Regions from separate parts of the Homo sapiens genome. Here region 1 is linked to region 2. A link means that fine-mapping ties the variant in region 2 to the expression of a gene that starts in the linked region. Tissue or cell type: whole blood. Region 2 holds a variant in brackets; the other region holds the start of a gene. All regions are shown on one strand. Distances are between the middles of the regions.

Region 1 (8,092 bases), 150 kb before region 2:
CTTACACCTCTAATCCCACGACTTTGGGAACCCAAGGCAGGTGGGTTGCTTGAGCATGAGAATTCAAGACCAGCCTGGGAAACATGGTGAAACACCATCTCTACAAAAAATTAAAAAAAAAAAAATTAGCTGGACATGGGTGGCATGTGCCTGTAGTCCCAGCTACTTGAGGGGGCTGAGGTGGGAGGATCGCTTGAGCCCAGGAGGTCAAGGCTGCAGTAAGCCATGTTTGTGCCACTGCACTCCAGCCTGGGTGACAAAAGTGAAGCCCTGTCTCAACAAATAAAAATAAAAACCACCTCTGCTTTGCTCACCTCCTCCCTTAATAAAACATGTATAGAAGACTTTGAGCTCAATGGATTACATATGCATCGTACTCAGATATTTTACAAAGAACATGAGACTAGGGTTATTGAGAACATATTCCATGAAGAAAAATATCAGATACACAAAGTGAAAGGGAGAAGGGAAGCGAAGCAAACATAGGGGAAATACATTTTAATGATCAAGTTAATGCAGTTAGCAAAATGTAAAAACTCCCTGTGATCTTGGGTTGAGTCAAAGCTGCAAATCTGTGATCCATGAGGATTTTGCCCACTTCATATCGCAAGGACTCTCCTGTCAATACCAGCACACTCACCCCTCTGATGAGGTCCTCTACATTATCATGTGGGAAGGAACGGATGGCAGCAATTGTTCGGATTAAGCGCTCGGAGAGAGAGTATTTGCTCTGAATGCTCTGCATAATATACCACATACTGGAACTCATCAAGGCTCAAGGTGTTCACATGCTCCAAACTGCCTGAAACAAAGAAGTTTTCGGCATATACAATATCACTGAGCACACCTGTCTTTAGGGTTAGGTCTTCTCTGAGGCCTTCCCAATGCTAAAAGCAGATTTCAAGGAGTGATTAATACTATTTCCATAATCATAAGGAATTGGATTATAATAGTTGCCTAGGGAGTTGGATAAACCTGGACACAAATGTTCTACTCTAACCTAGTCTAGCACGAGATTTCCCCAAGAGGTACTAAGACCCCCGTGGAGCTCTGTGTGGTTTACAAACGACTAGGCAAGGAATAGGATTTTTAAAAGGCTGAAGAGGTCAAAAAACATTATTTTCCTTCTTTGAATTTTTGTGGTTTTTATGATCAGCACCACCATTAAGTTATTTATAACACTGGGCCTTGCAATATAGTTATGTACATATTGTTTCTCCATCGAAACTGTAATCAACTGGAAGGCAAGGACTTTGTCTTCTACTTTTTCACCCATGTAAGGCCAGCCACAGAATCTCACAAAAGGTAGGTATTTAACAAATATTGGTTGGTCGACTGACTAAACAGTATAGAAGTGATTGTTATGTGTGAAAAGAGAGGAAGAAGGCTATGGAGCAAATATATCTTAATAATGAAAAGTTATCTGAAACATTTTCAAATGTGTTCAGAAGAGGAAAAAAAGGAAATATTTGGCAGGGCGTGGTGGCTCATGCCTGTAATCCCAGCACTTTGGGAGGCCGAGATGGGTGGATCACAAGGTCAGGAGATCCAGACCATCTTGGCTAACACAGTGAAACCCCGTCTCTACAAAAAATACAAAAAAATTAGCTGGACGTGGTGGTGGGCGCCTGTAGTCCCAACTACTTGGGAGGCTGGGGCAGGAGAATGGCGTGAACCTGGGAGGCAGAGCTTGCAGTGAGCCGAGATCGGGCCACCGCACTCCAGCCTGGGCAACAGAGTGAGACTCTATCTCAAAAAAAAAAAAAAAAAAAAGGAAATATTTGAGGTAGTATTCTAAAATAGGTAAGGAAAGCAAAAGTATAACTACCCTGGAGTCATTTATATAAAACTAGGAAAAAATTAAAATTCAGAATAATAAAATGTACTTTCAGTTTTAGGAAAATTTGCAGATTTTAAAATGAGTTAAAGGTGGGGCGTGGTGGCTCACACCTGTAATCCCAGCACTTTGGAAGGCTGAGGTGGGTGGATCACCTGAGGTCAGGAGTTCGAGACCAGCCTTACCAACATGGTGAAAGCCCATCTGTACTAAAAATACAAAAAAAATTAGCTGGGCATGGTGGCGCACGCCTGTAATTCCAGCTACTCGGGAGGCTGAGGCAGGAAAATAGCTTGAACCCAGGAGGCAGAGGTTGCAGTGAGCTGAGGCTGCACTACTGTACTCCAATCTTGGCAACAGAGTGAGACTCCATCTCAAAAAAATAAATAAAATGAGTGAAAATTTTTAATAATTGGCTATTCATGGCAACTGAGAAATAGATTTGGTGAAATATATGTTGAAACCACAATAGGACAGAGTTCTAGGATGGAAGAAGAAAATAATGCAATATACTTCAATTCAACTTAAAAGGCTTGGCTGTATAAGAGACAAGAGTTAGGGACCATTTAAAATTACAGCCAATAAGGTAGAACACTTCTATGAAACAGTACATATCAAAAACAATAGGGAAAATATAATACACAGTATCAGCTCTCTAGGTGCAACTGCTTAGAAATCTGTGTTCTTATTATAAGCTCTTTGGGAATAACGATACTGATTTTTTCAATAGTACCTGAACACATGGTAGGTTCTTAACATCTGTTGAACCAATGTAAAGTTTATTACTTTAGATCCTAAGAAATTCAAGACTTGAAATAAATAAGCACATTACCCATATGAAATTGTTTTGGTCATTTAATAATATATAATGTTTTGGCGGGGCGCGATGGCTCACGCCTGTAATCCCAGCACTTTGGGAGGCCGAGATGGGCGGATCACTTGAGGTCAGCAGTTCGAGACTAGCCTGGCCAACATGGTGAAACCCCGTCTCTACTGAAAATACAAAAAAATTAGCCAGGCATGGTGGCATGCACCACCCCTGGTAGTCCCAGCCACTTGGGAGGCTGAGGCAGGAGAATCGCTTGAACCTGGGAGGTGGCGGTTGCAGTGAGCTGAGATCGCGCCACTGCACTCCAGCCTAGATGACAGAGTGAGACTCCATCTCAAAAAAAAAAAAAATATATATATATATATGTATATATAGTCTTTTGCTTTATTTTTTTTTTTTTGAGGCGGAGTCTCACTCTGTCATCTAGGCTGGAGTGCAGTGGTGCGATCTCAGCTCACTGCAACCTCAGCCTCCCAGGCTCAAGCAATTCACGTTCCTCAGCCTCCTGAGTAGCTGGGATTTACAGGTGTGCACCATCACGCCCAGCTAATTTTTGTATGTTTAGTAGAGACAGGGTTTCACCATGTTGGCCAAACTGGTCTCAAACTCCTGACCTCAGGTCATCCACCTGCTTTGGCCTCCCAGAGTGCTGGGATTACAGACATGAGCCACCATGCCCGGCCTATTTTTGCTTTTTGTGATTGTGTATCCCTTTATATATTATATACTATAAATTCTGATAGTTTCTATTTTGTGAATCAGTAGCCATTTATAGTAGATGTAAATTCCATTAAAAGAATGCAAGTAAAAATATTCATATGTATCGATAATTCAAATTAGGTATTTTTCTCCCGTTATCATGCACGGATAAGCTGACACACTTGTTTATATGTCTCTATGACATTTTCTAGATAGTTTAGATTTGGCATGTGTTTTAATCTCTCCAGTAGCCACTAAACTGCTCTGAGACAAGTATCTGTATCTTATAATTTTTTTGTTTCAAGGAAAAAAAAAGACAAGTGCATTTGAGTTGGTAATTCCAAGAATGGCAGCAGAAGACAGAGCATCTAAAGCAGGAGGCTTGGACCAAAGTGGTTCTGTTGCCTGTAATCCCAGCACTTTGGGAGGCCAAGGCAGGAGGAACTCTTGAACCTGGAAGTTCAAGACCAGCCTGAGCAACATGGCGAGACGACCCCAAAACCCAATCGTCTCTACAAAAAAATTCAAAAATTAAAATAAATAAATAAAGTCGTTTTGTTAACCATTTCTGGGCCATGATAATCGGATGAAACTAAATCCTGAACTAATTTCCCGGGCGCTCTTGGGCTCTGGGCTAAGAACTCCTGAGAGTATGGTCAGTGGTCTGCTGCTGCCTGGAAGCTCCCGGTAAAGGAATGAAACTTCAGGGCAGACAGCATTCACTTCAGGAATGGTCAAGGAAAGCTAAATTCGATCTCACTAGACAGCAGCCCGTGTAAGGTTTGATCCCCTTGGAAGGCCCTTTCCTCTGCTAGAGCTGAAAGCCCTGTCTCCCTCGTTTTCTTTTGCTACGGGATCCAGAGAAAACACCAAAGGGCACTTACTGAGAAGCTGAAAAAAAAAAAAAAAAAAAGCAAACTGGAAAAGAGAAGACACAACAGCTCTGATGCGAGGGAGGCCTCGGCCCCGCCCCCTCCCGCCCCGGGAGAACCTTGGCCGAGCCTGCAGCGCCCGTAATCCCCACCGCACCTGCTGCGGGAGGGCCCGCGGCAGCTGTCTCGCTGAGGCTAGGGGGCGGGGGGCAAGGGCACGAAACGCAAGGACGTGCGGTGTCACTTTCTGCACGGGCTCTAAACAGATCGCAGCAATCCCGGTAGGTCCGGTACTGAAAGAGAATCACGCAATTTGCGCTGGGGGGCCTCAGACGCGGACCAACCCCCTCTTCGATCTGCCTTCTAAGGCCCGGAAATAAGTCTCAGCCTCGAGAACTAGAGCACTTCGACCAGGGAGTAGAGGAAGCGTTATTGGGCGTGGTACCCTGGGTTAGGAAACCTGGCTGTAGACCCACTCCAAGGACCGCACTCACCGAATTGCTGGGCTGAGGTGGGGGTTGAAAGCCGCTGTCAAGGCGTGACCCGGAAGCAGAAGCTGTCGGGGGCAGGCCCTCTGTTTACCGGACTAGAAGACCAACTAAGATGGGCGCCTGCGCACTGATGAGTGTTCGTCAGCGGGGCGCGCCTGCGCAGACTTGTGCAGCAGCTTTCGCCCTCCAGAGGCCTAGTTAGGGGGTTACTTTCTCCTTTTACTCAGAGGCTTTGCGCGCAGGCTCAGTGCAGCGTTCTCGGCCACAGCCGCAGGGTTCGGGTCTTGGTCCTGCAGCGGGGATAAAAAAGCTCAGGAACCCTGAGTGTTGGGCCGATTCTATATGGTTGCACCTGCGTGGACCAGGCCAGCAGGGGTCCATCCACAATGGTTCAGTTGCTTAGGAGACTAAACTCTTAGTAGGAAGTGTCTTTGACAAAAATACTTACAGCATTATTCATAATGGTGGAACGAATCTATGCTCCTTAGAACCCTCCTGTACATGTCCACCCTCCTTCAAGTAAACCATATCAAAGACAAACTCAACCACCCAAGAGGTGTAGTATTCTAAATGTAGAGGAATAAATGACCTTTATAACTCTTATTAGGGTTAATGAAACTTCCCGCACAAAAACATGATGACACCTCTGAGTGACAGACTTTCTGTGCAAAGCATAAACATTTTGAAGTCAGCAGCACATGGTGGTGGTGCATGGAAGGAGTGAAGCAGCAGCCCATTTAGGCAGACTGCAAGAGTTGTGGTCTGCCCGGTAGCCTGTTTAACCAGAGTGCCCCACACCTACTCCCCAGAGCTTGTTCTAAGCAACCAAATCTAACCAATTAGAGATTTAAAGCAGGCCCAGACAGATCATGTACATCAGTAAGAGGATGGTAAACTGAAAGTTCATGACCTGGTCTGAGGAGTGGGCCTCCTTTGAGCTCCAGACTCAAAGGAATTTTGCCAGGTAGGAATATGCCCTCCACTTCCTGCCACTGCACCATGGTGAGATCGTCCATTTTTCAAAAGAAGCTGAAATACAGATTTTTTTTAAAAAGTGAATTTTTCCAAGTTGCAAATGTTGGCAATGTTTTTATTATTATTATTATTATTATTATTATTATCATCATCATTATTTATTTTTGAGATGTAGTTTCGCTCTTCTCACCCAGGCTGGAGTGCAATGGCGTGATCTCGGCTGGCTGCAACCTCAGCCTTCCGGGTTCAAGTGATTCTCCTGCCTCAGCCTCCTGAGTAACTGAGACTACAGTCACCTGCCACCACACCTGGCTAATTTTTTTTTTGTATTTTTATTAGAGATGGGGTTTCACCATGTTGGCCAGGCTGGTCTCAAACTCCTGACCTCAGGTGATCCACCCTCCTCGGCCTCCCAAAGTGCTGGGATTACAGGCATGAGTCACCACACTGGACCACATCTCTCAAATTTCTTGGTTGGGAAATGCTGAAGTATATAAATTCTGGGAAACCATCAGCATCTTACAAATGTAAGAATGAGCGGAGTCTCCCAGGGAGTGATAAAATAGGCTCTCAATACAGGTTATTTTACTTATTTATTGAAAAACTGAGTACACTTTTATTTTACTTGGCCTGCAACTCAGTATATGCAGAAAACTACTCTATGTCACACTCATGATCAATATCTTCTTATTTCCATTTGGCATGTCATTGAAAACCTAGCCCATCACTTAGCTAAAAATCACATAAGAGACCCCTAGAGAAATCAAACTAACTTTTTTTCCCCCCAAACAATAGATCTCATCTTTATTAGTCAAATCAGTACCTGCTGATAGGGCAGTGGAGCAAGCCTGACAGTGATATTCATTAACAAAGAAGACAAAACTTATGCTTTCAAGTACAAAGATAAACTTTGAATGGCAGAGAGCCTAATCTGACTATCATCAGCCACCAAGAACACAGAAGAGCAAATAACTCAAGAAGAGAGAAGCCAAAGTGCTATAAAAATTATTCTTTTCTGTGAAATTCAGTTCCACAGCCTGTATGAGCAAGGGTCCAAAACACTGGAGAGCCAATAAAGCTGCTGGGAGGGCCCATTCATAATGGGAGATGCACTGGCTGTGCCTCCCTTGCTGTGTCCTTCCATGAGCGTCCTCCACTCTTCACTGACTTCATTTAGACTTGGTCCTCTGGTCTCACCACAGCTACCTGGGAGACTTTGAGTTGTAATCTTACAGTTTCAAGAGTCTATTTTGACTGAACCCAGGAGTAACATGCCAATCCAAAATAGAAACATTCTCATGGTACAATGGTGCAAAGGTCATTCTGTAGGTTGCATATATATAACATATATATATACACACAATATATATATTACATATGTACTATATATTACAGATATACTATATATATTACATATATATACACAATATATATATTTCTATGGAAGACAAAGCTTCCTTTTTTTTTTTTTTTTGAGATGAAGTCTCACTCTGTCACCCAGGCTGGAGTGCAGTGGCACGATCTCAGCTCACTGCAACCTCCACCCACCTCCCGGGTTCAAGCAATTCTCCTGCCTTGGCCTCCTGAGTAGCTGGGGTTACAGGCGGGCACCATCACACCTGGCTAATTTTTGTATTTTTAGTAGAGACAGGGTATCACCATGATGGCCAGGCTGGTGTCGAACTCCTGACCTCAGGTGTTCCACCCACTTCGGTCTCCAAAAGTGTTGGGATTACAGGCGTGAGCCACCGCGCCTGGCTGCTTCCTTCCTCTTTAACAAGAGAATATTGCACCCAGCATCACTGCTTTGGCTAGCTCTTTTTTCCTGTGTGCCCTCATGTGTGCAGCAATTGAACTGGCTAACAATTTCTGCATTCTTCCTGGTCTGGCCAAAATAATCTGGAAACTCACCATCTGGCCCAATCAAAGACATTGTTATTGTATGATTCACTAACATGGTCTTCATCTTCATCCTTGGGGCTAGAGCTGTAATATACTCTGTATGCTCTGGCCACGTGATTGATCTCTTCTTTCGTGCCAATCAGGCCAACCAGTTTGGGAGAAAATTCTTTCACATAATTTGCAATGGCCTTTTTTATGTCCCTCTCTGGGTCAATGGTGATGAAAAGTTAAATTTGGCAGAGTTGGAACACTATCTCACCCACAACTTGAATTATTTTTTTCTAGTTCTTCTGGACAGATATCAGTAATGACTGAAACCAGAATAAATCAACAGCCACTGACCCAGGTAGTCTTTGTCAGTTTCAGGCTCTCCAAATGTGTTGTGAGGGAAAATGGTCCCCCAGTAAAGGCTTGTTGATGCTTCACTGCTGTTCCTTCTCTAGCTTCTCTGTCTTTTCTATTTTGAATACTTCACTCCAGGCAGTAA
Region 2 (8,107 bases):
CACTCTGTGGCATGTACTTTCTTTTCAATAAATCTGTGCTTTTCTTTTGTTGCTTTATTTGTGCATTTTGTGCAATTCTTTGTTCAAAATGCCAAGAACCTGGACACCCTCCACTAGTAATGTAGAGTGGAGTAGATAAATAATTTAGTAGAATTATTAGATCTTTTTTTGCCTAATATAACTTTTTCAATACTTAAGTAAATAAAAAAAGAAATTTATTATAACATAGTCCAATAATAAATGGTATAATTAGATTTTGGTGAGTATGCTCTTAATTCTTTTGTTCAATCAATTAAAACACCAATCAGTAGCTGAATTAAGTTTGGGAATCCAAATAAAGAGGGAGTCTTGAGAAGTGACTAATTCTATCCCTGAATGATAAAACGTATTCTTTTATTTAGAATGGAAGGGTTTCTAGAAAATTAGCTGGTGTTTCATCGAGGAGGGGTTAAGGAGAAGGTGGTTTCAGGGGCCAATGGAATACAAGAGGGAACAAGGGAAAGGTTACTCAAGGTGAATCAATTAAGGATATTAAAAATGGTAGCAACAATACCAATTTGGTTACCTCGCCATTTATTCTACAACCTATATAGATTTTGCCTATGTTGCTCTGCAGATAATTAAGATTTCATTTCATTTGTAAAAGTATTTGCATTTAGTCTGTGAAAGTATTAATCTGTCCATAGCACTGTCACAGGGTATATCCTTTACATAGTGGGTTCCCAAGAAGATGTAACACCCTTATCTCAATAATTTCTTTGCACATCAATTGATAGTGATAACACATAAAAGCATTCTGTTTTGTTGATGGCATTTTATGTCTGCTTGATAATCAAAAGAAGGTAGTCTGCTACATTAATAGTTAGAATAGAAAATTTCCAACAGTGAGATGCATTGTATTTAGACTTCTCATCCAGCACTTTTGAATGGTGTGAACTATCAAGGATACTTGCTATGGTCTGATCCAAAAAAGAGCCAATAAGGAATTTCATAAATGGTTCTTGATTAGGACCCAGTCACTGTGTTGGAGTTAGTGATATGGTAGCACAGATCTCTCTGGGATGGAGGCCTCAATCTATGAATAACATTATACACAATGGCTCAATAATATGAGGTAATATTATCATTCGTAGTCTACTAGCCTTTTAAAGTCTTGAGGGCAAAAAAGAACAAATGGGTGGTCCCTGCCCTTGATTGTTTTATAATAGCCTAACACAGTTTTCCTGTTTAATGTGGCCATTATGCTTATTTGGGCAAATGGTTATCTCAAATATGTGATATGCAGTACAGTCAATTTCTTCCTTAAAAATATGTCTGTTTTCTCAACTCCTCTTACATTTTGAGGATAGTGCAAGAATTATTTTACATGGAAAAATGTATGGATTTTGTATTGAGTCAGTGGGATAACAACTTCAATGCTTCTCTTTTTATACTTTTGCCGAGGAATGAAATGGGAATACCAATACTTATGCTACTACCGCTGGCAATAACAACAGGCCATCTCCAATGGCGAACAGAGCATTATCTATCTTAAAAGAGAGAAAGTTAAATCTATCCACAGTGAAATATTTGAAAATATAAAAACAGAGAGAACATAATATCATAGAAAGAGCCCCACACAATTAACAGACATTAACAATGAAAGGGACAGCAGTGTGTTGGTATAAACACAACCTCATTTTCCTGAACTCCATTTCACCTTCTCATTCCTATTTCATCTCTTGGCAAAAGTATAGAAACAGAGGCATCGAAGGTGTTATCCCACATACTCAAGCACTGGTCAAGGCAATAATGATTACATCAGCACTGAGCCTTACAGATTCATTTAGTATTACAAGAAAGAACCTTGAAAACAAACCATTTCTATTGTGTTGAGCCCATGGTCTACAAACCTCTAGGCATTCATAAGCAACTCTCAATATTTCAGTGTTCTAAGAGAAATCACATAGCTACCTAAGTTTGTGCATGCTAAATAAAATCTTGTTTCTTTGTTTTTGGCTGAAATACCAACTCAGGGTGGCAACCATGGTTATCTTATGCTAACGAAAATGTCTTTGGCTAATATAATAAAAATTGTTCCACTTTGGGAGGCTGAGGCGGGTGGATCACAAGGTCAGGAGATCCAGACCATCCTGGCTAACACAGTGAAACCCCATCTCTACTAAAAAATACAAAAAACTAGCCGTGCGTGGTGGCGGGCGCCTGTAGTCCCAGCTACTGGGGAGGCTGAGGCAGGAGAATGGCATGAACCCGGGAGGCAGAGCTTGCAGTGAGCCGAGATCACGCCACTGCACTCCAGCCTGGGCAACACAGCGAGACTCCATCCGAAAAAATACATAAATACATACATAATAAATAAATAAATAAATAAATAAAATAAAAATAAAAATTGTTCAAAACATGGGACCCAACGGGGGAAAATAGTAACAGGTTAGGGGTCTTGATGGCCTAACTCCAGTAGTCCAATCTGTCCCCCATTTTGAGGACACTAAGACTTGCAGAGGTGAAATTATTTGCCCAAAACCACTACCCAAGAGAACACTCAGTTCAGCAAAGGTATTTTTAAACCATAGCACATAACATTCTATGCCTGCTTACTTTTTAGATAAAAGAAGAATGTGAAGCCAGTGGCCCGCCTGATGGTGGATAGGTGTGTTTTTCTAAACTTCAGCAGCCTTCTCTTACAATAAGTAATCTCAGTCATTATCCTCAGCCAGGTTTCCTCCTATAAGATAGAAATATTAACCCCTATCTGTTATGGTATTGATAAGAATTGCATGTTAAGTCAACCACTCCTTTAACATACTGCAGAAACTTCAGTAAATGCTACCTATTATAATTAGATATGCTAGACCAGTAGTTCTCAAAGTGTGGTCATCAGAACAGCAGCATCATCTGGAAATTTGTTAAAAATGCAAATTATTGAGCCTCACCCTGAACCTACTAAATCAGAAACTTTTCAGGTAGGGCCCAGCAATCTGTTTTTGTTTTGTTTTGTTTTGTTTTGTTTTGTTTTGTTTATTTTGAGATGGGGTCTCACTCTGTCACCCAGGCCAGAGTGCAGTGGTATGATCTCGGCTCACTGCAACCTCCACCTCCCGGCTCAAGTGATCTTCCCACCTCAGCCTCCGAGTGGCTGGGACCACGTGCCATCACAAGCAGCTAATTTTTTGTATTTTTTTGTTGTTGTAGAGATGAGGTTTCACCATGTTGCCCAGGCTGGTCTCAAACTCCTGAGCTCAAGCGATCTGCCTGCCTCAGCCTCCGAAAGTGTTGGGATTACAGGCATGAACCACCGTGCCCAGCCCAATGTGTTTTTTAAATCTTTCAGATGTTTCTGACGCACAGTCAAACTTTGAGAATTAGGTCCCACCATGACAAAACAAAACTGAAATTCCCCTGAGGATATATTTGTACTTACAAGCATTTTGTTATGTTTATCATTCGCACATTTTAAGGCATAAACTAGCAGTAATATTGGGAATTAATTTTAATAATATGGCTAGCTAAAAACTTGATGATGGGCAGGAGAATAAAGTCAAGAGAAAGCCTGAACACTCAGTGCCACTCCCTAGGCATGCCAAACAGAGAGCCTGTAGCAGGAAAGATTGTTAGAGAGGAAGCACTTGCGTGTGGATGGACAGAGGGAAAAATAATTCTTCCTTAATTATTCAGAAATCTAGGCCGGGCCTGGTGGCTCACACCTGTAATCCCAGCACTCTGGGGGGCCAAGTGGGAGGACTGCTGAGGCCAGGAATTTGAGACCACCCTGGGGCAATGAGGCAAAATCCTGGTCTCAGCAGCAAAATAAATAAATAAATACATAAAATCTATCTATCTATCTATCTATCTATCTATCTATCTATCTATCTATCATCTATCTATCTATCCAATTACCTGGAGTGTTAACAACAAAAATTCCAGATCCTTGGCCAGGCAGGTAGCTCACGTTTGTAATCACAACACTTTGGAAGGCCTAGGCAGGAGGATCACTTTCCCCCAGGAGTTCCAGAGCAGCCTGGGCAACACAGGGAGACCACATCTCTACATTAAAAAACAAACAAACAAAAAATAGCCAGCTGTAGTGGCG[T/C]GCGCCCGTAGTCCCAGCTACTGGGGTAGCTGAGGTGGAAGAATCGCCTGATCTCGGGGAGGTGAAGGCTGCTGCAGTGAGTCGTGATGGCACCACTGCACTCCAGCCTTTGGTAACGGAGCGAGAACCTGTCTCAAAATAAAATAAAAAGTCTGCATTGTATGGTGGAGAAAGGCTGTCTCTGCCTATGCCATTCCTTCTAACTAAACGTCTTGTTTCCTGTTCTCTACCCAGCCTAGCCCTTTGGTTAGCATCTCCTCCTCAACTCCAAAAGTCTCAGGCATCCATTTGGCCAGTATCTTTCAATCCTCAACCTCGCAGAAGTCATCCCCCTTGTGTTCCCTTCGCTCTGGGGCCTTATCCAAATGAGTACATTTTGCCCTTTGACAATTTGTCTTTTTTGTTATTCTGCTTCTCCTTACGGGAAAGCGCTCTTTATGGGCTGTAAAAGAAAAAAGTGCCCCTTTCAGTAACTATCCCCAGCAAGGGTCTAAGGAGCCATTTCTCTTCCACCTCCGGAAATAAGAGCGGACTGCGGTGGGGCGGAGCCAGGAGAACGGCGGCTCTCTCGGCCAACGGACTTGCTTCCCACCGCGCTGAGACTCCTGGGAGGAGAATTTCAGTTTTTTGGCTTTTGGTTTTGTTTTGTTTTGTTTTCCTTCTTGGATAGAAGTAGCACCCTAATCCCTGGGCTTCTGTGCCGTTTAGCATGTGCTTTCCTGGATCTCAAGGCCCATGGCCTACCTTTCTCTGTCCAGGCAGCTCTGGGAGAGTGGAAGAGTGGCTCATCCATCTCTGAAAAGGAGATTCCCCAGTACTGTGAGCTACCGTGTGAATTTGGGACTCCCCTGGCCTCCTGAGGGCCCCTCCAGCTCCCCTGGTGCCTTCTGCCCATGTCACTATGAAGTCTTCCTGTTATGAGCCCACACGTCTAGGGTGGGAAAGATTAAGAATTTTTGAAAATTCTTAATCTTTTAAATAATTCTTAGACTTAATTTTTGTTTTCAGAAGAACCGGGAATGGAGGTTTTCTGAAGACAAACGTTTTCCTAAAAATGGAAGAGGCAGAAAAAGGCCCATTATACCATCAGTGCAGGTAAAGTGAACAGAAGAAAGATGGAATAAGCAGAGGATGTGTTGCGTATTCCATTTTCTTTGGGAAAATTTCCGTTTCTTTTAGGAAGTGAAAAGCCCCTACTTTTTGGTGACTATTAGAGGAGCAAGCCTCCTTGGATTCTTAACTTATTTGGGGGCTCTCTCCCTTCCCTCACTTTTTTTCTCTTTCTAAAAAAGGTCTGCTTTAATTTCTTCAGAGTAGGTGATTTCATTTATAAGGCCTTAGGAATATGCACACTTTGTTTTCTTTAGTCTGTAGCAGCGGTCCCCAACCTTTTTGGCATCAGGGACCACTTTTGTGGAAGACAATTCTTCCATGGACGGGGGCGTTGGGGAGAACGGGGGTTGGGGAGATGGTTTCGGGATGAAACTCATCATCAGGCATTAGAGTCTCATAAAGAGTGGGCAGCCTAGATTCCTCACATGAGCAGTTCACGATAGGGTGCTGATCCTGTGAGAATCTAATGTCGCCACTGATCTGACAGGAGGCAGAGCTCAGGAGGTAATGCTGGCTGCCCACCACCTGGTGTGCTGCCTGGTTTCTGACAGGTACCGGTTGGTGGCCTGGAGATTGGGGACCCCTGGTCTGTAGTACTTTTTGTATTTTCTACATTCTATGCAATGCACTTATATTAATGAGTCAGAAAAGTAGGATATAACTATTATTTAAAAAGAAAAATAACTGTTGAAGTTCAGGAGCTGCAGACAGGACAGAATTAGTTTAACATATTATTTCGAAGTTTTTAGGACTAGGGATACCTTCTTCAGTTTTATCCAACTGTAGGCATTGCTGTTATTATTGGTGCATGATGAAGAGACTTGGTACTTGTGTCTTAGGGATTTTAAGGCAAATGGATCATGGAGAAAAGACCCATTTAGGTGACGGGCTTATGAAGAATGGCTATATGTAAGCAACTAGTGGACTAGGAGAAAGTAGCAACCGTATCTGAAAGTTTATAAGTGTCAACATAATAACTCAACAAAACAAACATTTTGTAATGTAAGTCACATGTAGCCTGGTCCTTGTCTTCTAGAAAGTCATATTTTAGAGTTCTAAGACATGAGATGAAGGATATTTTATCCTCTTCTGGTTAATTAAGGCCTTCAGATACTAGTCCTGAAATTCAACTTTTTTGCTAAGGTTTAAAAATACATTTTTCTCTCCAAAAGCTTCATAGAAGCCCTAGAGACTTTTTCCCCATTGGTTTTTTTTTAAATAGTTTAAAACATAATTATAAACTGTAAATTTTATTTATTCTTTTGATGGTTGAAGAAAGCAGCATATAAGACAGTGGGACAAGTATGATGAAGGCGAGTATTTCCCAAGCATCCAATAAGGGAAATTAGAAGTGAGTGGTGGAGAAAGAACATCTCAATATTTCTGAAATCTGAGAAATATGGAAGCTGATAAGTGAACAGGAATCCAGTGTTAGAGGAAAAACTTACCAAATATTTCCATATAGCAAAAATGTTGGGTTGATTTTAAGTTGGAGTTGTCCTTTGAAGTATTGGCCCATCAAAGCTGCTATTATAGCAGAGCTGTCTGGTTTTTGAGGGACAAATTGCTTCTGGTGGTGATGGAGGTGGGGGTTGAAATATGTGGGATTTGTTTCTAGGACTTGCTGTCATCCTGTGGCAATTAGTGCTAGATCAATGTTTATCTAGCACAGTGTATTAATAGAATTCTCTGTTTTAAAGAGTATAACTTCTGAACCAATTTAGGTGCTTTGTAAAGTTAGCTCTTTTATCTGTTAAGTTTTGTAGCAGGCTTGTGGTTGCAGTATTGTTACATGATTCATATTTCTAGCCTAAGTCCTTGGATCCATGAGTTTATTTATTTTGGGATTTGTAAAGAAGGCTGTGTCTCTTTTTGGCATACTTGTATATATTAGTGTGAAAAAAACATTTTTGTATACTATTTATCTGTAAAAATAATTTTAGAGGTCTTGTGTATATGGTTATATAGAATCTTTCCCCAGTAATGGAGGAGGTGGCGGGAGGTCTTTGCATGAGCTTTAGGGCTTCTAGTACATGTTACATGGTTCCATAAGACTTCACTTACAAAACACAAATTCAAAACTAAATTAAGAATTGTAAGACGGCAACTTCAGCATTAAAACCCAAGCTTGAAGCCCTGTGTAGTAACATGCCCATGAAGCCAGCCTTGCTGATTATATTAAAAGATTCTTCTCCAATGGATGAAGGATACCCATTGCTTATATATTCCTGTTGTGTGATTTGTCTTGTGCAAAATGAAAGGCTCATTCACACTGATGACATTCGAAGTGTTTCTCTTTGCTGCAACTGCTCATTGATTACCTAAGGACAGAGAAATTGTCCCGTACTCATTGGTTACATTCATAAGATGTCTAATATAAATTGTCTCATGTGCCTAACAGATGAAAGATCAATACGTGCTTTTCCACATTCATAGGGATTCTCCCCATTATATACTCTTATGTGTGGTAAATGAAGGATTATATTGGAAGGATTTTTTGTACTGATTACATTCATAGGGCTTTTCACTAGTGTGGTTTCTCATGTTTTCTAAGGGATGAAGTAATACTAAAGGCTTTCCCACCATCTTTGCATTCTATTTTGTATTCTCTTGTACACTGTAAGGGAAAAGCTGTAATCAATATGTCCCCAGTTTGAGCTCCCCAGTTTGCGCTCTCGTGTACATCAAACGTGAGTGCTTCCTGAATATTTTTCCAGTATAATCATGACAGTTACAGGGTTTTTCCCCAGTGTGAATTCTCATGAACACAATGGGAGTAGAACTTACACTGAAAACTTTTCTGTATCAATCACATTTATAGAGATTCTCCTCAGTATTCTCTTCTCTCCTCTAAGGACAGATCTAATGCTAAAGACTTGAAAATGCTGCTTACTGTCATTGTGC

The links. PIP is the estimated chance that this variant, and not a neighbour inherited with it, causes the effect.
Region 1: it holds the start of ASB8, and the variant in region 2 is fine-mapped to the expression of ASB8 in whole blood (TOPMed, PIP 0.98).

What each region holds. Positions count from the first base shown.
Region 1 is chr12:48,152,728-48,160,819 of GRCh38, forward strand. It overlaps ASB8 (ankyrin repeat and SOCS box containing 8), which reads right to left and starts at 4,788. Exons shown (of 4, transcript NM_024095.5): 1 at 4,732-4,788; 2 at 641-802. The coding sequence starts at 769. It also overlaps the pseudogene LOC100421855. RefSeq lists enhancers at 4,572-5,094, 4,599-4,648, 4,669-4,718, 4,749-4,968.
Region 2 is chr12:48,302,818-48,310,924 of GRCh38, forward strand. LOC105369753 (a long non-coding RNA gene) reads right to left here and starts at 4,612. Exons shown (of 4, transcript XR_944923.3): 1 at 4,513-4,612; 2 at 3,898-4,044; 3 at 2,599-2,725. The variant T/C (reference allele first, on the strand shown) is at 4,091.